3 linked regions of the Homo sapiens genome follow. The protein of the gene in region 3 purifies or fractionates together with the protein of the main gene of each other region. This does not show direct contact. Each region holds a gene or a part of one and is shown on either strand. Other genes may lie near its edges.

Region 1 (7,667 bases), on a different chromosome or scaffold from region 3:
GCAACACAGTGAAACCCCATCTTGACTAAAAATACAAAAAATTAGCCAGGCATGGCAGGGCATGCCTGTAGTCCCAGCTACTCAGGAGGCTGAGGCAGGAGAATTGCTTGAACCCAGGAGGCGGAAGTTGCAGTGAGCCAAGATAGCGCCACGGCACTATGGCCTGGACGACAGAGTGAGACTCTCTCTCCTGTCTCAAAAAAAAAAAAAGGTGATATTGTAGACATCAAGAGAATGGCTACTGTTCAAAAAGGAATGCCCCACAAGTGTTACCATGGCACAACTAGAAGAGTCTACAATGTTACCCAGCACGCTGCTGGCATTGTTGTATACCAACAAGGGCCTGATTCTTGCCAAGAGAATTAATGTGCGTATCGAGCACATTAAGCTCACTAAGAGCCGAGATAGCTTCCTGAAACACATGAAGGAAAATGACCAGAAAAAGAAAACAAAGAGAAAGGTACCTGGGTTCAACTGAAGTGCCAGCCTGCTCCACCCAGGGAAGCACAGTTTGTGAGAACCAATGGGAAGGAGACTGAGCTGCTGGAATCTATTCCCTATGAATTCATGGCAAAATAAGTGTTAAAAAAATAAAAGACCTCTGGACTGCAAAAATGTTTCTCTTCGGCTGGGCGAGGTGGCTCATGCCTGTAATCCCAGCACTTTGGGAGGCCCAGGCAGGCAGATCATGAGGTCAGGAGATCGAGACCATCCTGGCTAACACAGTGAAGCCCCGTCTCTACTAAAACTACAAAAAAAATTAGCCGGGCATGGTGGCGGGCACTTGTAGTCCCAGCTACTCAGGAGGCTGAGGCAGGAGAATGGTGTGAACCTGGGAGGCAGAGCTTGCAGTGAGCCAAGATCGCACTACTGCACTCCAGCCTCGGCGACAGAGCAAGACTCCGTCACAAAAAAAAAAAAAAAAGTTTATCTTCATTGAGTAGAAGTGTGGTGTCTTCTCCCTTAAAGAAATATTTAAAGCACATTTTAATTGTGTCCTAATTCATTATGTAATGTCTTTACTGTTCAAATTTAACGTATTTCTTGCTGAAAAATGTGAGGTAGCTTATTGTGGAACAAATTACTCAATTGGTTAGAAAATGGCAAGATATTATTTATGAAATATTTGTACTGGTTTGAATATAGTCCCTCTAAATCATCATGGAAGAAATAAAATAATTTACCAAAAAAAAGAAATTATATACTCTTTTCTAGAGAGACAATCAGGAGGAAACACAGCAAAGACGTCATTGGTAGGAAATGCTGACTGCTTAAAGCAGTCTTTTAAAAAGATTTAAATGTATGCTTTTTGTTGTTGTTTTTTGGGTATTTAAAACACTCATCCCTAGGACCTGTATTCATACGAAAAGAAAATCACCTTGGAACAGCCAAGGCAGTGCAGATCGGTGACCCAGATTCTTTTCAATGTATCTAGAATGTTTTTCAAGGCTACAAAATTGTTCAAGTTACATTGCAACCAGTATAATGTGTCTACCCAGTGTAACTTGAACTCAGAGATACAAAGATGTATCTTTTAGATTCAGTGTGTGTTATTCAATAAGGCAATTAGGGCACATTTGAGAAAATGGATTGTGAACCATTATAAAGTTCTCATCTTCTTGCATTGTAGAAAATATTTAAGATTTTCTATATACTGTTCACAAAACAAATTATTTATTAGCCACTGACCCAATTCATTTTTAGCAGTAAATACTTTATTGTCTCATTACTTTTTTAAACTTGGACATTATGCCTAATTAAATTTGTAAAGTTTTTCAGAACTTTTATGGATGATTTCTACTTAGTTATTCCCAAAAAGCTGAATAAATTTGATTCACACATCCAAATATACCAAAGAAATACCATGTCTTTTTATCATACCACACACTTAAAAACTTATAAACTTAGAATATAGCAACATATATTATATTGTATTGTTGGTAATTAAGTAAATGTTATAGTCTCACCTTTTCATAACTAATTTTTATTTTTTTTTATTTTTTTTTTGAGACCCAGAGTCTCACTCTGTCGCCCAGGCTACAGTGCAGCGGTGCGATCTCGGCTCACTGCAAGCTCCGCCTCCCGGGTTCCTGCCATTCTCCTGCCTCAGCCTCCCAAGTAGCTGGGACTACAGGCGCCCACCACCACGCCTGGCTAATTTTTTGTATTTTTAGTAGAGACGGGGTTTCACCGTATTAACCAGGATGGTCTCGATCTCCTGACCTCATGATCCGCCCATGTCGGCCTCCCAAAGTGCTGGGATTACAGGCGTGAGCCACCGCGCCCGGCTCATAACTAATTTTTAAAATGAATAAAACATTTATATTTTACGCTATTTTAGTCTTGTAATCTTGACTGCTTTTTTTTTTTTTTTTTTTTTTGAGACAGGGTGTCACTCTGTCACCAAGGCTGGAATGAAGTGGCACCACCATAGCTTATTGCAGTCTTAACCTCCTGGGCTCAAGCAATCCTCCCACCTCAGTTTCTCAAGGTCTGCAACATCACACCTGGTTACTTTTTTGTTTTGTTTTGTTACTGGTCTTGAACTTGTGGCTTCAAGCCACCCACCTGCCCCAGCCTCACAAAGCTCTAGGATTACAGGGGTTTGCTGCCACGCCCAGCCTTGACTGCATATAGTAATTAATCTTTTAAGATTCATATCCATGACTTTCTCCTCTCTGCTATCTTCATCAAACTCCTCAAAACACACAGGATACTCTGAATTGAAACAATGAAGTCAAATTGTTTCTGATTTAAAGTAAATCTGATTTGTCTAGTTTGACAATGAAAATGGGCTCTGTTAATTAGGTTATAAGGTAAACATTTAACATTCTTAACAAACCTTTTTTTTTCTTGTTTTTGAGAAGGGTCTCACTCTGTTGCTCAACCTGGAGTGTACTGGCCCCATCATGGCTCACTGCAGACTTGACTTCTTGGGCTCGGGTGATCCTCCCACCTAATCCTCCCAAGTAGGTAGGACTACAGGTGCACGCCACTACACCGCCTAATTTCTTTTATTTTTTTGTAGAGGTGGGGTCTTGCCATGTTGCCCAGGCTGGTCTTGAACTCTGGACTCAACCGATCCTCCCGCCTCAGCCTCCCAAAGTGCTAGGATTACAGGCGTGAGACACTGTGCCCAGTGACAAAGATTTTGAACTTGAATGAGCTAAATCTGCAGTTGCAAATTTTGACAAAAACATAATTTAACCACCTGATAACAAAAATAAATCTTATCCAAAACTATTTATGAAAATGAAAAATGTTTAGATATTCTCCAAACTTTCAGTATATCAGGTGAAAGGTACACCTCATTGAAAAAATCAGGTCTAATTCATAGTCATTTGGTATCTTGGTAAAACCTATCTGGTATATTTCCCAGAATCTGAAAGAGTGAAAAAATAAGGATTAAGTAAACAAATCCTTTGGCAAGCCAGGTGGTTTTCAGCTCTTTGCTTTCCATAAAATAGAAGGAGGGCCTAATTGAAGTCAGCTCATAGATAATCAAATCTAATTTTTTGAGGTCAAGAATTGAATGATATTGCTACAACAAAACTCTTCCATTCCTAGGCACAGTACTTGTTTATATGAACAAGGTTTCTCAGGGCACACAGCTATAAAAATTACAAATAGGAATAGAATTGATGCTCAACCCTTCTTTTCCTACTAATAAGATATATTCAGCCACAGATGTAGGAACTTTAAAAAGCAACAATATGCATTTTTCAATAAAGTTACACACACTATTTAGTAATTATGAAATTTTCTAATATTTATGTTGCTTTGACCACGTACTAATAATAATTTCAAAGATGATGCAGTCCAAAAGCAGGTGATTTGCTAGCTGTGTAATCTTACTCAACATACTTAATTTATCTGAGCCTTGGTTCCCTGATTTGCAAACTGGGGACAGTAATCAGACCTAGCTCTTAGTGTTTGTCCAAAGATTAAATGCGTTAATACATGTAAAAGCACTTAACGCCACGCTTGGTACATAATATGTGCTATAGATGTTTTACCTGCTATAATCATAGTAATCAATAGCAAATCTCCTAAAAATAAAAGCCTGTCGATTTGTCTTCACAGATAGGAAGAACGGGCTGGAGGGATCGGATCTAATCCACAGGCACACTGCCAGAAACAAGGGACCCCCACGGGGAAATGGTATGTGCAGGCAGAAGAGAGACAGAAGGAACTTGGAGCTACCTGCTGGGACAAGAATAGTGCAGGATCACAGGCTAAGAACGAAGAGGGTTGGGCGAAGTTAGAATGAGCAGATCCACGTAGGGTTCGCATTACAAATGTCTATGGATCTCTATGCACTGCTCCGGGAAACTGGAGCAAGAGAGGCAGGCCTAAAATGCCGTCGCGGATGAAGCGGGGCCAGAAACGCACTGCCCCCGCTCAGACCTAGGGCCCCAGGTGTCGCGCGGGTCGAAGCCCTAACCTCCAGGGACTCCAGACCCCTGCCGGTGACCTAAACCCCACAACCCGCGACCAGCACAGTCTTGTCGTCTCCGTCGCCACAGTCGCCGCCACTTCCGGCGCAGCTCGGCCTCGCGAGGGCGCTTGCGCCCGGCGACGGTCGAAACTGGCTCTTCGCGGCCTCCGTCGCCGGACTTTCGTCAATGTTGTCACCGTCTTTTCCTCCTTTCCCCCAGTTCCCTTTCACTTCCGGGGTTGCTCTGGATCCGCTGGTTCCGTAACAACATCCCGTTGGCTTCCCTCAGGCGGCGGGACCAGTGCAGCCGCCGCCTCCCAGGATCGTCCGCCGGTCAGGGCCCTTGCCCTCCCCGGCACAGGCCACCATGGCCACCAACCCACAGCCGCAGCCGCCTCCTCCGGCGCCGCCGCCTCCCCCGCCGCAGCCGCAGCCGCAGCCACCGCCGCCGCCGCCGGGCCCCGGGGCTGGCCCCGGCGCGGGCGGGGCGGGCGGCGCGGGTGCGGGCGCCGGGGACCCGCAGCTCGTGGCCATGATCGTGAACCACCTCAAGAGCCAGGGGCTCTTCGACCAGTTCCGCAGAGACTGCCTGGCCGACGTGGACACCAAGGTTAGGAGCGCGCCGGGTTTGGGGGTCTGCGAGGGAAGGGGAGGACCCAAGGGCGCGCTTCTTTTGCAGTGGCTTCCTCTTGGAGCTGCAGCTGTGTGCCACGGACTGTGCAAAGCACAGAGTGTTCATTCCTTAGCGTGTCCTTTGGTTCGTTTTACCGACTAGTGTTTAAGTACCTACTACGTGCCAGTCATGGTTTCGGCACAGTGATTACCCCGGTCTGATGAGCAAGACTAAGGCATTGTTCTTACAGGAACTGGTTTGGAAACAGTGGCGCTAACAGTAGCCAGTTTTGTATTCATTCTCATATCTGATGATTTTACTTTGTATCGAAGTTATGTTTGCCTTCTTTCTTGAAGGTTTCTGGGCGGTAAGGGCCTTTATCCTTTGGAGAAATGACTAAATGGTAATTGAATCAAGTTATGTGTAATATGCTTTGCTGGACATCGTGGGGGTGGGAGCGCAAAGATAAGGAGGCAAACCTGAGACAGGACTTTAGTATTGTTTCTAGCAGTGATTGCCTGATTTAGGTAACTTAGGCCATGTCACCATTCTAAGGTAAGAAGGGACAGGAAGGTGGGGTAGAGAGAACCGAGTCATTCAGTGGAGAAAAGATGCAGGAGAGGTGACAGCAGATACTGAAGTGGAGAAAGGACAGGAAAGAGAGCAGATTCAGGAGAGTAATGTAGAGAAGGGAAAGGACAGCAACAAGGTTCCCTGTCCAGAAAGAGAGGCTGGAAAGGGGAAGGGATTTTGTACCAAATGTCAGAGTGAAAGGGACATTAGCAGGAACAAGTAAACTTAGCTGGATTGGCAAAGAATTAGCCAAAGACACCAGGAAAGAGCAGTCAGTGAGATGGATGGAAAACCACAGTACAGTCTAGAATTCTGGAAGCAGAAAGCATGTTGGAAAATTAACTGGTTTGTAGGGGTTGTTTTTGTCTGCTTGTTAAATCTGGTTGGGTCCATTGGATTGGAGTTTTGATGAAATGAGGGTTTCCTTTTTTTTTTTTTTTTTTTTTTTTGAGACAGAGTCTCGCCCTGTCGCCAGGCTGGAATGCAATGGCGTGATCTCGGCTCACTGCAACCTCCGCCTCCCGGGTTCAAGCGACTCTCCTGTCTCAGCCTCCCAAGTAGCTGGGATTACAAGCGCGTGCCACCACGCCCTGCTAATTTTTGTATTTTTAGTAGACACAAGGTTTCACCGTGTTGGCCAGGATGGTCTCGATCTCCTGACCTCGTGATTCGCCCAGTAGGCATGAGCCACCGCGCCCGGTCGAGGGTTTTCTCATAGTATGTTTAGTTGTTCTGAGGAGCTTTGTATCTTTGAGAAATGCATGTTTACAACATCCACAGTTTCTTCTAAAGCTTTCAGGTGAACTGCACACAGTTCCACTATGTCTTCTGGGGAAACTCTTGAATATCCTGGTACATCTTCCTTTATAAGGACTCATACTGGGCCCACTATGTAAAACGTGGTTTTTCGGGATATTGGAGGTTTTGCACCACAGAGAATTCAATTCACTTGGGAGTGTTCATCTATTTAGGAAGTATAGTTTTTTTTACTTTTGTCTTCAGGAATATGCACTGCTACCTTTTAGAAATAATTTCTATTGCCTTTATTATTTTTGTTGTTATTTAATGGGAAAAGGTTAGACATGGCCAGGTAAATGTTATCAAATAAAGTTAGTTATTCGTATTCAACAAGTGGAATTTTTACTTTGCTGTTCTCAGAAACCCATGAATCTGTGTGTTCTCAGAAACCCATGAATCATTATGTATACAAATTAAAAATTGTAATGTACTGCTGCAATGTCTGAGGCTCAACTTTTTTATTATCCTATTCCCACAAAATGTTATTGGTATGTGTCTATAATATCCCTGCCAGACCCTTCAAAGTAAAGGATTAAAACCTTTTTTGGAGGGAAGGAGGGAAGCACAGTATCTCTGATCATCTAATGAAAGTTAGGACCTTCTCTCAAGAAAAATGCGCAAGTAACACATTAAAACGCTGTTTTTCTACTTCAGAATGGTCAACTATAGGCAATTTCATGAGAATCAATCTAATAACATATACAGTTTCAGTGAGTTCAGGAACCATGGAATAAGAACCTATTTTAATGTTCTTAGCCTCTTTTTTGAGGTCAAGAATTGAATGATATTGTTACAACAAAACTCTTCCATTCCGAGGCACAGTACTTGTTTATATGAACAAGGTTTCTCAGGGCGCATGACTATAAAAATTAGAAATAGGAATAGAATTGATGATCAACCCTTCTTCTAGTAATAAGACATATTCAGCCACAGATGCAGGAACTTTAAAAAGCAACAGTATGGCCAGGCCCGGTGGCTCATGCCTGGCCACCGTGGGCCAAAGTAGAAGATTCCCTGTTCATGCAAAGAACCATCACTTTAATGGAATCCTTGAGTTTCATCTGCCACTTGAACCTCAAAGACTGACCTGCTTTCTGTCAAAAAGTCTTAACTTGTAGCATATAGAGTTATAGTGGATTATGTCTGTCACGTGCATATTTAAGAATGAAGACATTTGATACCTGCCAGGTGCTAAGAGCAAAACTGTCATCCAGTTTAGTGTGTTTAAACCAGGATGAGAAGTAC
Region 2 (7,888 bases), on a different chromosome or scaffold from region 3:
AAAAATATGGTATATTTAACTTAAAAATGGAAATGCTTGAAACTATGTAAAGCACTAGAGTGTTCTGCACGTTATGTATATCTTCAAGTTAACATCAAGTGCAGAATTGGCATTTTTAGAATTCACCCATTAATACTTTCTTTCCCAAACTAGAAAGGAATATTTACTTCCATATGAGATTACATTTTATGACCAAAAATACTTTGTACTTTTAAATTATAAATCATAGGTAGCATCTAAGGATTCACTGAACATTATTCCTTATACCTTAGTTAACATACAGAAACAAAATATTAAACGTGTGATTTGCAAGGTCACAAAGACTTAATAATATCAGAATAACATATTGGGAAACGTAATATTTTGTGCCATATTTCAGGTTGGATTTGTTGAGGTGGAGTACTGGTAACAATCTATCAATCTTAACCTCAGTGAGGACACCAGATGTGTTAATTCTTTAAATTATATCAATTTTTGTATATTTCAGAATTTAATTCTTTAAAAGGACAAGTAGAAACGAGCCTAAGGGAAAAACCAAAAAGTCAAAGTGCTATTTTTAAAACAGCTGATAAACAAGATGTTTGTCATTTGACAACAGCCAAAATAGTTAAAGGGGTCATCAAACATTTTAAATAAAGACCCAAGATTACACTGCTCCTCTACCATCCCAAACTCAAAAGGAGACTAAATTGGCTAAATCCCACCCACGTTGGTTTAGCACTAACATTTTCCAAACAGCTCTGGTATTGACTAAAGGATTAAGACATTGCAAACAAGCCTATATAAGCCAGGCAGTTACCTGCAACTGCAATGGTCAAAACGTTGGGAGGGAGGGAGGATGGACGCTAAAATATATTTGATAAAGCGCAACATAATGAATAAATAAAAGCACTTCGCTGCAAGTGACTTAATCCAGATACATAAAGATCTTTAAAGGATATAGCTAAAGCCCAGAGAGGGAAAAAAAAAAAAAAAAAACTGCTTGTCACAACTGTAAATACTTAAACTGGGAATTCGACCGTAGCACTTCACTAGCTGGTTGAAATGGGAAACCATGGACAAATTATTTAATTCTACCAAGGTTAAGGTGACTAGTTCAAATTTGAGCCCAGCTCCCCAATCATCAGAGCTGATGAGCGTTCCGGATACTGAGGAAAGCAAAGTAAATTTCCTGACAGAATGCACAGCTGACCACCAACACAAAGAGCATTGAGACTTGCATCCACATCTGGGAGAGGTTATATCTTTAATAGAAACTAAAATTACATTTTAGCTAAGTCTCTAGAACTTCCTAGCTCCTTGTTTTCACACATTACTTTGTCACTTTTCAATGCCGCTTATCTGCTATTTTAACACTTGAAACGACAGCTTTCTCAAATAAATAACACATTAAAAAGGGCAAGCTAGTACAGAATCCAGTACAGAATCTTAAACCTTTGAAAATCACGGTGGAGACGTGGGGAGAGGAGCACGGACTAATTATTAATCCCACTCCCTACAATTACGGATAAGACACTATTGACGATTCACCTACTACTTACAGCACAACTTCCAGGAACAGTAGCTAAAACCCTCCACACATCTCAACTGAGAAACAACCAAAAAATAACCTCGCGGGAAACCTCAGAAGCGCAGCCCAATTCCCCACCCCCTTCCGCCCAAATCGCCTCAATATGGAAAGGCAGCTGAAGGACACTCCTACAATTTGGTTGTTTTCGTATTTTCAGTACCAAATGCTCGCGACTGAAGTGTCTAAAAGGGCAACCGCCTTGTACTTGTGCAGCTACACTCCAGTTGCTTTACAAACTCTTCAAGCAGGGATGGAAACTTAAAAGAATATTACACCCTGTGAATAAAGAGATACTGGGCTGAAGAATGGGGATGGCAGACCCAGAGGCGGCGGCGGAGGAATACATCGAGAAAGTAACACAAAGCGAGAATTGGGCGGGCAGGGTGGTCAACGCCAAAGCAGCAGCATCGGGGTGGTTTCTCCCCCAAGGATAGGAAGTGAACAGGGCTGGCAACCTCGCGAAGGGAAGGGTGTGGTTCCCCGCGGACAGGGTGGGAAATCCAGGCTGAGGGCAGCGGTGGAATTGGGCGATGGCAAAGGAAACCCCTGGAAATTTCCAATCTAAACCGGGACCGCTCAACCGAAAGAACACCAGAAAGGCACTGCCTAGCAGGGTGCTGCTCAATGTCCCCTCTTCTCGAGGTGACTTGTGGCACCATCGACGAGCTTTTGATCGTCCTCGGGTGATGCAAAGTGAGGATATGATTACATCGGAACGGCACCCCCGCCCTAGATTGGCAGAGAAGGACCAAATCTGGCTAAGGGGAAAAGACTGGGGGGGGAGATGAAGGAGGAGATGGAGGGGAAAAAGGAGAGGCGATGAGCTGGAATTAGGGGAGAAAACCGCTGCAAAGGAGTGAAAGGGCAGGGATTCCAATGCAGTCCATTCCACGACATTCTAAGCGCGCACGTGTGATAAAAGCGCCTGGAGAGAGTGGAATGCTAGAACATTTACGAAATAAAAACAAAGCAAGAAAGGCAGCAAAAAGCAAGCAAGGGAGGAGGAGGAAATGTTCGGGAAGCGGACAACAGCGGAAAACCCGATGTGATCAGATGCCAGTAGACCACGAAAAGCTTAGCAATGTCACTGATGTAATGGGGATGGTTCGAGGGAAGGGAGGGAAGGAGTGATACAAGGTAGAGGACGGCGCGAGACCCCAAGGGGGCATCTGCCAAGGTAGAACGGGACACCGGTACCTGTGCTGTCGGCCACGTTGCCCACGGAAGACGCCATCTGGAGCTTCTCGAGGGAGAGCAAAAAAGAGGTAATTGGTCCTGCTGCCGCCACTACCAGCAAGAACGTATTTGGAGGTAGTAGTACAAGGGCAGCAGCCGTAGCAATGCTCTGGAGGGCTTGAGCGGCGGCAGCAGTTACAGGCTTCAAACCCTGGGAACTCTAATTGACCATCTACCTAGTACGGTCTTGAAATGGCGGCGACGGCTCCTCGGCCGAAACAACATGGGCCGGAACTACTTTCTGTTACAATCAAGTGCCCGCGCGGAGGTAGCCGGTAACCAGCGCCGCCAACAAAATGACTTCAAGCTGCAAAGTCGAGATTCCATGTAGTCCTCCGCGCAGCGCCCATTGCGACAAACACCACGGTGGAGACCGCGCATGCGAGCAGCCCTGTCAACCCGACTCGTGGTTAGGGCACTCTCTGGGGCGGAAGCGGCCAAGTTTCTTAAGAGTGTAGCGGAAGGGTAAAAACAAACACACACGGGACGGATACGTTTTTGCCACCGCGATTAAGAAGAGTGTTTGTTACTTAGCAGGTGGTGTCGTTTTAAACATAAATGCCAAAGGCGTCTAAAAAAGTTTATCAACTGTATTCGTACAAAAACGGATGGTTACGACTCTCACGGATCAATTCTGAGCCAGTCAATTCAGAAGATTGCCTCTCAAAGACAGCTGCTCAAAACGAGGAGCGAGAGGGTTCCGATTTGAGCCCGTCTTCATTGTGACTCGGCCATCGATTTCAGCACTTCGATGAAAAAGACTGAAGCTTTCACAGGGCCAGTTGAATGCAGACACCTTCAATGTTGGCCGTATAGCCTGAAATTTCAAAATCGTTTTGGTATTCAGAATACTCCTGCCCACGGTGATAGGGCAAATGTTTAATAACTCAGGGACATGCTGGGCGTTTGCACTCCGAAGGCAGCCATAAAAATGTTAAAGGTGATTCACGTTCGTCAAAATCCATGACTCTCCTCGAGTTGTGACTTCATTTCCACCAGCTAGCTCTGCACATTGTCACAGTCGGCGATTCCACTGAGCTCAAAGCAGATCAACAATGATAAATGAATTCACTTGCCATCTGCCTAAACCACACGTCTAGATTGAGTCATGAATTGCCTCTACTTCCTTGAACAAATCGGTTCTTACGATCTTCCTGCAGTTTCAAGTCTACTGTTCAGACATTTTGTCACATTGGTATTTATACTTCACCTCTTGTTCTAGAAACGACTTAAGGTAGCTTGCCACATCAGCAAGAAAGTATTACAAGCCACTGGAGGCTACAAGTTGGATCTCTGAGAGCCTTTTTATTTCAAAAAGTCCTTGATCTAAGAAAGCAGGTCAATGAATTTCTTCAAAAAGTTTTTGCTACCTAGCCCCTTCACTACATTTTTTAAAACTAAGTCCTCAAATTCTGCTTAAATTTCTTCAAAACAGTCAACAAACAATTAATTATGGAAATGGCACAGAGAAAATTCATAATGCTAATTTCTTCCATCCCATAATCAAGAGTCACATCATGCAGTGAAAAAGACAAAAATCACTACACAAACTCTCCTGAAAATTGAGCACCAACCTCTTGTAATTTGATTTAACTGGTAAAACCTCCCCCCCGCACACACACACCTACTACAAGTTCCCTATCTGTAATGAGTAAACTCAGCTTTTCAACTTTTAGAAGAGACTTCTCAGATTCCACTGGCAGATGTTTAGGCCTTGCTGATGAGCGGGTGCTAGCTAATTAACAAAAACTCTTTTTGTTGTTAAATGCAGGTCATGTTCCTAATTCTTCAGCCAATAAGTAACATTTACTAGAGTCTCTATGTGCAAGGCACTGTGGGGGGCACAAAAATGAACAGAAATCCTCGCCCTCAAGGAATCTGAAGCCTAGTTAGGTAGACACAAAAAGCTACTAGAGAGCAATACAGAAGACTATTTAGATGATAAAATATATTACTCTCTATGAATATCTAGGGAGGAAACAGGTAAGGTTGGAGGGGGTGAGAAAGAAGCCTTGATCTAGACATTGAAGGAAGTGCTTTTGTATGTTTTTTATTGTTGTTCACATTGATTTCTGGGTTTTTTTTATGTGCAATTTTAAATTTAGAACCAATTATAATTAAATCAGCTGGGTCTTCAACCCCAATCCCAAACTTTGTCACCCAGTAACACCACTGATGTTGCATTACTTTTTTTGCTGCTGTGTAACAAAGTATCACAAATACAGCTGCTCAGAACAACACACATTTCACAGCAGTAGCACCAGCGCTGGATGAGACCCGGGCTGGTGGCTGCTGTTGCACTGCTGCTGAAAAAAAATGGCTCCAAAGGTTAAATGAAGCCAAAGAAATACATAGATGTGAGAGGAGAAGCCAGCTGGACTTCCTGGGTTGGGTGGGGACTTAAAGAACTTTTCTGTCTTACAAGAGGATTGTAAAATGCACCAATCAGCACTCTGTAGCTAGGATTGTAAAACGCACCAATCAGCGCTCTGTGGCTAGCTAGAGGTTTGTAAAATGCGCCAATCAGTGCTCTGTAAAAACACACCAATCAGTGCTCTGTGGCTAGCTAGAGGTTTGTAAAATGGACCAATCAGCAGTCTGTAAAATGGACCAATCAGCGCTCTGTAAAATGGACCAATTAGCACCTTGTAAAATGGACCAATCAGCACTCTGTAAAATGGACCAATCAGCAGGACATGGGTGGGGACAAATAAGGGAATAAAAGCTGGCCACATTCCGCACCCACCCACCCACCCACCCACCAGGCCAGTAGTAGCAACCCACTCGGGTCTCTTTCCACACCGTGGAAGCTGTGTTCTTTCCGTCTTCACAATGAATCTTGCTGCTGCTCACTCTTTGAGTCCGTGCCACCTTTAAGAGCTGTAACACTCACCGTGAAGGTCCGTGGCTTCATTCTTGAAGTCAGCGAGACCAGGAACCCACCAAAAGGAACCAACTCCAGAACCACCTCCGGAGGGAGATGCAGCCGCACAGGCTCTCCAGGGGTGCGGGACTAATATTCCAGAGAGAAATTGGTCCCCTGGATGAAGTAACCAGTCACAAAGACTAATTAAAATTGATCTTAAAACCTTCCAGAAATCTTGTAACCTGAATAAAAGTAAAGAAGAAACTGATTTCATGGTAGTACAACAACCATCACTAACTAGTGAATGTGGAAAAGATGATTTCTTATTTGGTAGCTGCACTGGTAAAGATATGGCCACCTGTGATATCAACAGTGAAAGATGAAAAAGGTAAAAAAGGAAAAAACAATGAAAGCCTAATGAGTACATTGAAAAAGGCAGCTTTCTGCAAAACAAAAGCAGAACAGCAAGGGGAGCACACCCTATGGGAGTTCTGCCAGATGAGGATACTTTTTCTCTCAGCACCAACAGTCTTTAAAGATGTGAGAGCTCAAAGACCAATAAGGTCCACTTCCCTCCACAATCCTCACTGTAGTCCTCTCCTTGGCTTACAAACTAAGGAGACACGTATCAAAACGGAGATGAGACGAAGAGACTCAAAGCCTTGGTTCATTCTTCCAATCCAAGTCTGGCACGGATTTTCACTATCTTCAGCCTGAAGCTGCATACAAAGAACAAAGTAAAGAGTTCAAAATTTCAGAATGGAGACTTGCATCTTCACTTCAAGGAACATGTGCCTGTACTTATTGGACTTATGCCTCAAGACTATATTCAGTATTCTATGCCTTTAGATGAGAGGCTTTATCCTTTGCAAGGGTGTCATGCTATTGTCTGGACAGTTCTCCCATGGAAGTGAGTGGTGAAGCCAGCTGGACTTCTGGGTTGGGTGGGGACTTGGAGAACTTTTGTGTCTTACAAGAAGATTGTAAAACGCACCAATCAGCACTCTGTGTTTAGCTAAAGGATTGTAAATGCACCAATCAGCACTCTGTAAAAATGCACCAGCCAGGTGCAGTGGCTCACACCTGTAATCCCAGCACTTTGGGAGGCTGAAGCAGGCAGATCATGAGGTCAGGAGATGGAGACCATCCTGGCTAACATGGTGAAACCCCGTCTCTACTAAAAATACAAAAAATTAGTCAGGCGTGGTGGCGGGCACCTGTAGTCCCAGCTACTTGGGAGGCTGAGGCATGAGAATGGCATGAACCCAGGAGGCGGAGGTTGCAGTGAGCTGAGATTGCACCACTGCACTCCAGCCTGGGCGACAGAGCGAGACTCTGTCTCAAAAAAAAAAACAAAAACAAAACGCACCAATCAGCGCTCTGTTTCTAGCTAAAGGATTGTAAATGCACCAATCAGCACTCTGTAAAATGCACCAATTAGCGCTCTGTGTCTAGCTAAAGAATTGTAAAAACACCAAAGAGCACTCTGTAAAATGGACCAATCAGCACTCTGTAAAATGGACCAATCAGCAGGATGTGGGCGGGGACAAATAAAGGAATAAATGCTGGCCGCCCCCAGCCCCACTGGCAACCTGCTTGGGTACCCTTTCACGCTATGGAAGCTTTGTTCTTTTGCTCTTCACAATAAATCTTGCTGCCGCTCACTCTTTGGGTCTGTGCTACCTTTAAAGAGCTGTAACACTCACCGCGAAGGTCCACGGCTTCATTCTTGAAGTCAGCAAGACCAAGAACCCACTGGAAGGAACCAACTCCGGACACAGATGTTTCTGGGAATTCTATCCCCAAAGCTGAGAATCGGGTAGAGCAGGACCTGGTCGTTGCTCCAGAGATCTTTGTGGATCCATCTCTGAATGGCTTGTTCATTGGTACCTGTAAGGAGTTACAATGCAGAGCCCAAGAGCAAGCCATGAAGACATTCCTGAAGACACTTTCATCATTACTACCTCCAATACAGAATCTAAAGGAACTTCTGTGGACTCACAGGTGCAGTTGTCTATGTGTGTGTCTGAAAGTACCCACTGTCATTTGAATTCTAATCCTGACTGTCCTCCTGGGGTTGCAAGAGTTGATGATTCTGTCCAAAGTAGTGACACTATGGTTGTGACAAGCCTTACAGAGGAGCTGAAAAAACCTGCAAAATAATAATGGTGCTGGGGGCAATCATACACTGACAGGCAGAAGAAAAGTGAGCAAAT
Region 3 (7,020 bases):
AACTCTACCTGGTGCATCCCATACCTCTCAGAACTGCTGCATTTCAACCCTGCACCTCCACCTGGCTGTGCCCTCAGGACGACCTGACCCCTTCATCCCTACCTCTTGCTCTCCCATCAGAACCCACGCAGCACACCCCTTCTCCTTATGCCTGACCCTGCTCACCGTCTTCATCTTCCTCAGCAGGAGTGGAGGGACGAGGCCTCTTTTCCTCACTGGCCTCGGAAATTTCCGATGGCTCTTTCCGCTTTACCTGGGGGATGGGGAAAAGATGGGGCCTGTTTAGAGCTCAAACACTCAGGCAGAGCACGGTGGCTCACTCCTGTAATCCCAGCACTTTGGGAGGCCAAGGCAGGTAGATCACCTGAGGTTAGGAGTTCAAGACCAGCCTGGCCAACACAGTGAAACCCCAGCTCTACTAAAAATACAAAAATTAGCCAGGCGTGGTGGCGGGTGCCTGTAACCCCAGCTACTCGGGAGGCTGAGGCAGGAGAATCGCTTGAACCCGGGAGGCGGAGGTTGCAGTGAGCTGAGATCAGGCCACTGCACTCCAGCCTGGGCAACAGAGTAAGACTCCATCTCAAAAAAAAGAAAAAACTCAAACACTCATGGTTCCTGACCACCCCTACCCCAAGGAAGGGGGCCCCCTCTCCCTCTCCCCACCCTACCCCACAAAACGACAGTTCTGAGTACCTTGAATGAAGGCAGCCGCAGGGCCCCTCTCAGCCCTGACCCAAAGGCGAAAGCCTCGATGCCCGTAGTGCCCCCGCTCTTGGCCCAGTCCACGAGGGACAGCAGGCCAGGCTCCTTCAGCTTCGTCTTCTCTTTATCCTCCTCCTTGGCTTGCTGCTTGGCCGCGTTCTGGAATGGCTGCAGGCAGCAGTGGGGCTGAGCCCCAGCGCCCAGAACCCAGGCATTCCCTCCTGCCTGAGACCTACTCCCGGACCCCAGGAATACAGAACGCATCTACTTGCTGCTCCATATCTTGGTCACACCTGTCCCAGCCCCCGCACGGCATTTTCTCAAAAGTCTGTCATTTCGCCCACCAGTCTTAAGAAATAGCCACCATTCCCACTTCACAAGTGGCAAAATGGAAGACCAAAGCTTGAAGAGAGCTAAGGGCCTTGTCCACTGCAAGCCAGCAAGGAATGGAGCCAGGACAAAGCTCTGCTGCCTCCCAGGCCCATCTGTGCCTGCTTCTCTGTCCCCTCAACTCCCCTGCCCACCCAGGGTGGCCTGCAGGGCCTGCGGCCTCTCTCCACTCGCCTCCATCACCTGTCTCCTCTGAGCTGTGCAGCCTGGAGGAGCCAGAGGCCCATTTCCTCCTGCAAAGCCCAGGGCTCCCCGGTCCCAGGCGCTGGCCTCACCTTGGCCTTCTCCTCCTTGCTCTCCCACCACTGGTCAAAGGCTCCGAAGGCCACGTTCTCCACCATCTTGCGGTTGAGGTCTCGCTGCATGATGCTCTTCATCTCCTGGACCAGCATGGCGAGCACACGGCCCACGGTGCCTGCTGTCGGGAGGGTCTTGCCCTCTGCCAGCTCTGCTTCTTCCCTGGGTGGCAGCCGGGCCTCCTCTCCCGAGACTGAGGAGGAGGGCAGGGGCTCGGCTGCCATTGGCATGGGCAGGTGGTAGGCCTCCCGTGAGTATGCCCCTCTGCCCTCCTGCCCCTGTGCATATAGAGCATACGGCAAGCCGTAGGCTGCCTCCTGCGGGGGTGGAAACGGGAGGAAGGCCTCCCCAAAGGCCCCACCGGGGGGGCCAGCTGAGGCGGCAATCAATCCCTTGCCCTGCCGCAGCTGATGGAGCCGAGTTAACATCTGGGTCTGCATCTGGAAGGACATGGGCATCCCTCCCCACTGAGCCCCAAGTCGGTCCATGAGCTCCAAGGAGTTCACAAAGTCATAGATGTGCGGGGGTGGTGGAGGAGGTGGGGGGTACTCAGGGGGCGGCGGCCCATCAGGTCTGGGTGGGAGGAGGTAGGCAGGTTGGTGGGGAGGATAACCAAGAGGAAGGGACGCCAGGTAGGGAGGAGGAGGCGGCGGGGGAGGGGGAGGTGGCGGAGGCTGCTGAGGGGGCGTCGGGGCCGGAGGGGGTGAGCCACCCCGGTCGTCGTCGGAGATCTCCATGTCGTCTCCAGAAGAGCATGGAGAAGCCTGCGGGGGCAGAAGAGGGTCACAGAAGGCTTCTGCCTGACCCAAGCCCTACTTTCTCATCTGGTTCCCTTCCCTCTCCCCTAGGCCCAACCCTGACTCCCAGAGCCCAGGTGCCTCCTCTGGCTGACCCCAACCTCACCTGGTTCTGTCCATTTGCCTTGGGAGACTCCCGGGTAGCCCCTGGCTCCCCGCTCCCTGTAGGTGCCACATCCTCAAAATTAGCTGGGGCCGGAGGGGGTGTGCAGGGCCCATGCCCTGACCCAGAAGGCACCTCACTCCCTGTATCTCTGGCCCCAAGGACCATGCTGCTGTTCTCTTCCTCCTCCTCTGTGTCAGAGGCCAAGAAGGAAAACTTGGAGCGCTGCTCCTTCAGCAGCATCTCGATGCGGGAATCCAGGCTGCTGTGCTGGGCGAAGGGCACACTCTCATTGGTGGTCTCCGGGGCTGGGGAGCCAGAGCGGGCAGGGGAGGCTGGGCGGGGGGAAGTCCGAACTTCTTCTCTCTCAGGGCTGGGCCCTCCTCCACCCCCGCCTCCACCAGGTTCTGGAGGCTCCGGGGGTGGAGCCTCTGAGGCAGGAGGCCGGTAGTCCTGGTCGGTGGGCCGGCTGGGCTCGGGGGGCAGGTAGGAGGTGTAAGAAGGTGGGAAGCGCTCAGCTGTATTTTCAGCAAAAGGGGCTCCAGGGGGTTCCTCCCGTGTGGCCCGGCGTGGTGGGTAGGAAGTATGGCGCTGGTAGCGATTCCAGCTTTCATAATACGCTGGGTAGTTTGCATCAGAACTACGAAACTGAGAGGACGAGGAGGAAGAGGATGACGAGGAGGACGAGGACAATGAGGAGGAAGAGGCGGAGGATGAGGCAGTGGCTGCAGTGGTGGCGGCGATGGCCGTGGAGGCGGTTGTGGAGGCTGAAGATGCAGAGAAGTGGCGGCGGGAAAAGGCATCTTGGTAGCTGTTCTCTGACCGCCGGGGCTTGAAGGAGGTTGAAGTGGTGCTGGAGAAGAAGCAGGGGAGTTAGCTGGACTCAGCTCTCTATGACCAAACCACAGCGTACTGGGTCCCAGGGCCCAAAGCCCCTCTATGCTGCCCTCCAAAAGAAGAGCTATATGTTGGGTTCCTAGCTAGTGTGTTCCCCGAGGACAGCAATTTGTTGACTGAATCCACAGAGAAACTAGGACAAATTATTTCCAACTCCCTCTTGGAGACAGACTCTGGGCATCTTCTTCCCAGTGGCAGCTCCCAGACTTTGCGGGCGGGGCCCCAGGCGGGGTCTGCTCTGTACCTGCTGGAGTAGGCAGAGTCCTGAGAGTAGGGGGTGCTGCCCCGAGACGTGTAGGGGGTTCCTTGGGAGGACTGAGGTGTGAACTGGCCAAAGGAAGATGGGGTATCTTGTCGGCTGCTGGAGAAGCTTGTGTCCTGGGAGCAGGGGGTGCCGTTGCCAGGAGTGCCCACCGCAGTGGTGCCTGCTGGGTAGGCAGCTGTGTCAGAGGAAGAGCGGCGGCGGGATTCGGCCTAGAGCGACAGAGCAGGGCAAGGAGAGAGGAATGGGCTCAAACACCACTTGAGACCTGCCCTTTCCCAAACCAGGAATCCTAGTTCCCTTTTTTTTTTTTTGAGACGGAGTCTCGCTCTATTGCCCAGGCTGGAGTCCAGTGGCGTGATCTCGGCTCACTGCAAGCTCCGCCTCCCGGGTTCATGCCATTCTCCTGCCTCAGCCTCCCAAGTAGCTAGGACTACAGGCGCCCACCACCATGCCTGGCTAATTTTTTGCAGTTTTAGTAGAGATGGGGTTTCACCGTGTTAGTCAGGATGGTTTCAATCACCTGACCTCATGATCCACCCGCCTCGGCCTCCCAAAGTGCTGGGATTACAGGCGTGAGCCACTGTGCCTGGCCCCTAGTTCCCTGTCTTTTGAAAGCATCTCAGCAGCTTTGCTTGGCTCTTCTTTGTTTAACGGGAAAGCCCGGAACCTCCCGAAGACTGCTCCTGCTCCGGGCACCCGGACACCATGCCCACATGGCTAGGGGCTGTGGTAGCCACAAACTTCTCACCGTCTCAGTGGCTGCACCCGAGCCTTGGAACTTCTCACTCAGGGCCTTGCCCCCAGTGGGCACAGTCTGAGGGGTGTAGGAGCCATTGACAATTAGTTCATAGTATTTCATTCGTTGTTGTCCTGGAGGGAGGGAAATGGGAACCAATTGTCAGATGGAGATACTAACTCCTTCCTGATCTGGTATTCCTGCTTTCTCAGGCCTCAAGTTTCCTACAATTTCTTGGAATCTGGGTTTCAGGATTTCAGTTCTCCTACCATAACTCTACCTTTGGGACCTTCTACCTTATCTCTACCTCTAAACTACCACAAACAACATATTTTATGACACTTCACGATTTATCAAAAACACTTCTACTTATTTTACCATGTTGGATCACCAGAAGGGAAGCATCAGTACCTCTGTTCTAGAGGCTTAAAAGCGACCTACACAAAGTCACAGAATTGGTCATTGGAAAAATTGGAATTCAAACCCAGAGGCTCGATCACCCCATGCTCTTTATCCTGTAAACTAAAGCATGCAGAACAGCAACCGGGGGACTAACGGAGCCTGCAGGAGCTGTGGAGTGAACACCTCAGAAACACCTTGTGAGGAAAGAAACATGGTATTTAAAAACCATGAGATTTCACACAAAAACCCAAATTTCTGGCTTGAGTGCAGTGGCACGATGTAATCTCCACCTCCCAGGTTCAAGTGATTCTCATGCCTCAGCCTCTCGAGTAGCTGGGATTATAAGCATGAACCACCACGTCCGGATTTTTGTTATTTTTAATAGAAATGGGGTTTCACCATGTTGACCAGGCTGGTCTCGAGCTCCTGTCCTCAGGTGATCTGCCCACCTTGGCCTCTCAGAGTCTTGGGATTACAGGCGTGAGCCACCGCATGCCCGGCCCTGGCTTTCTTTTACAAACCAAATTCAAGAATGTTAAACCTCATTTCCACTTGCAAACTGGCCAGTGCCTACTAATGGCTGCCTCCTCCAGACAATACTGCAATCTGCAGCTCGCCACAGACCCCACTGCTCCCCATCACTCAACACAGAAGCCCAGACCACCTCGCTTGTGTTCACAGCTCCTTTACTCTCTATCTCAAATTTCCAAACCTAAAAACCCAGAAAATCCAGTATTTCTGAGAATCTGGCACCAAAACCTATATGGGTTATAGAATAGCATATAGAAAGATTAAAAAGAGGCCAGGCATGGTGGCTCATGCCTGTAATACCAGTACTTTGGGAGGCCGAGGCAGGCAGATCACTTGAGGTCAGGAGTTCAAGACCAGCCTGGCTAACAGGGTGAAACCCTATCTCTACTAAAAATACAAAAATTAGCCGGGCGTAGTGGCGCATAAATGTAATCCTAGCTACTCAAGAGGCTGAGGCAGAAGAATCACTTGAACCTGGGAGGTGGAGGTTGCAGTGAGCCAAGATCGTGCCACTGCACTCCAGCCTGGGCGACAGATTGAGATTCCATCTCAAAAAAAAAAAAAAAAAATTAAAAACAGGCTGGGCAGTGTAGTGAGACTTCATCTCTGCAAATAATCAAAAAAACTTTGGCCAGGTGTGGTGGTGCATGCCCATAATCCCAGCTACTCAGGAGGCTGGGGTGGCTGAGCCCAGGAGCTGGAGGCTGCAGTGAGGAAAGATCACGCCACTGCTCTCCAGCCTAGGTGACAGAGCAGGATCCTGTCTCAAAAACCAACCAAGCAACCAACCTGACCTGGGCTGATTTACTACAATCTATTCATCTTACCTAGTACAACCCTTCATATGATTTTTTTTTTTTTTTACAGATAGTTATGTGCTTGATTATGGCCTATTGCCCGACCTTGCTGGAGACACCACACACACAAAAATCCATGTACCATAATTCCACTCTAAAATCTGATCTGATTTCAGAAACACAACTGGCCCCAGCAGTTTCAGATCATGACCCTGGGCGCCTGCCTGACCCTGACAGGCATTTGCATGTACAACCTCCGCTGGAGGCCAAGCCTGAGTGGCAGGCAGAGGAGTCCTCACCTTTGATGTCAAGCTGGGCATGGATGATGTTGCCCATGACGGAGGTAAGGTGGAGGTTTTTGACCGTTTCCTTGGCGCCCCGAGTGCTGGTGAAGAGCACACGGGCCAGGCCCAGGTGCTTGCGCGTACGGGGGTGAAGGAGGATCTCTACCTCTTCCACCTCACCGTACTTACGGCACATATCCTTCAGGAAGGTCTCCCGCACGTTGTCATTCAGCCTTGCAAAAGTCACTTCCTTCAGTGGAATCTGTCCAATATAGAACTCGTCCAGCTGGGGAAAGAACAGGAGTTGGTATGGGGTCTCAACACTGACCACTGTTCCTTTGTCCTTCGGGAAACTTTAGCAAGCTCCATGAAGTCAAGAGAGAGATCCGGGAAAGTGAGGGGCAAGGGAAGGGGCCCAAAATAAGGGATCCATCAGACCTGACCCCTTTTCCCTGAATTCTTCTCACCACAGAATAACAGCAAGAATTAAGAACAGAAATGTGCAAACTAGGCCGGGTGTGGCAGCTCACACTTATAATCCCAACACTTTGGGAGGATGAGGTGGACGGATCACCAGAAGTCAGGAGTTCAAGACCAGCCTGTCCAACATGATAAAACCCTGTCTCTACTAAAAATACAAAAAAAAAAATTTAGCTGGATGTGATGGTGGGCACCTGTAATCCCAGCTACTCAGGAGGGTGAGGCAGGAGAATCACTTGAACCTGGCAGGCAGAGGTTGCACTAAGCCGAGATCACACCACTGCACTCCAGCCTGGGCAACACAGCGAGACTCCGTCTCAAAAAAAAAAAAAAAAAAAA

What was found.
Region 1: the proteins of SETD1A (region 3) and BOD1L1 purify together in Homo sapiens (affinity purification with mass spectrometry; 3 studies listed by BioGRID and IntAct, with this or other methods). This does not show direct contact.
Region 2: the proteins of SETD1A (region 3) and OGT purify together in Homo sapiens (affinity purification with mass spectrometry; 4 studies listed by BioGRID and IntAct, with this or other methods). This does not show direct contact.

The regions. Positions count from the first base shown.
Region 1 is NC_000004.12:13,624,726-13,632,392, reverse strand, and holds the start of BOD1L1 (biorientation of chromosomes in cell division protein 1-like 1), read left to right. Parts: upstream 1-4,667; 5' UTR 4,668-4,805; coding exon 4,806-5,048; intron 5,049-7,667. UniProt on the Homo sapiens protein: Component of the fork protection machinery required to protect stalled/damaged replication forks from uncontrolled DNA2-dependent resection.
Region 2 is NC_000023.11:71,528,216-71,536,103, reverse strand, and holds the start of OGT (UDP-N-acetylglucosamine--peptide N-acetylglucosaminyltransferase 110 kDa subunit), read right to left. Parts: upstream 3,001-7,888; 5' UTR 2,805-3,000; coding exon 2,768-2,804; intron 1-2,767. UniProt on the Homo sapiens protein: Catalyzes the transfer of a single N-acetylglucosamine from UDP-GlcNAc to a serine or threonine residue in cytoplasmic and nuclear proteins resulting in their modification with a beta-linked N-acetylglucosamine (O-GlcNAc).
Region 3 is NC_000016.10:30,960,734-30,967,753, reverse strand, and holds part of SETD1A (histone-lysine N-methyltransferase SETD1A), read right to left. Parts: intron 6,488-7,020; coding exon 6,217-6,487; intron 4,322-6,216; coding exon 4,200-4,321; intron 3,661-4,199; coding exon 3,431-3,660; intron 3,143-3,430; coding exon 2,293-3,142; intron 2,154-2,292; coding exon 1,368-2,153; intron 935-1,367; coding exon of another isoform or gene 871-934; coding exon 694-870; intron 254-693; coding exon 166-253; intron 1-165. UniProt on the Homo sapiens protein: Histone methyltransferase that catalyzes methyl group transfer from S-adenosyl-L-methionine to the epsilon-amino group of 'Lys-4' of histone H3 (H3K4) via a non-processive mechanism.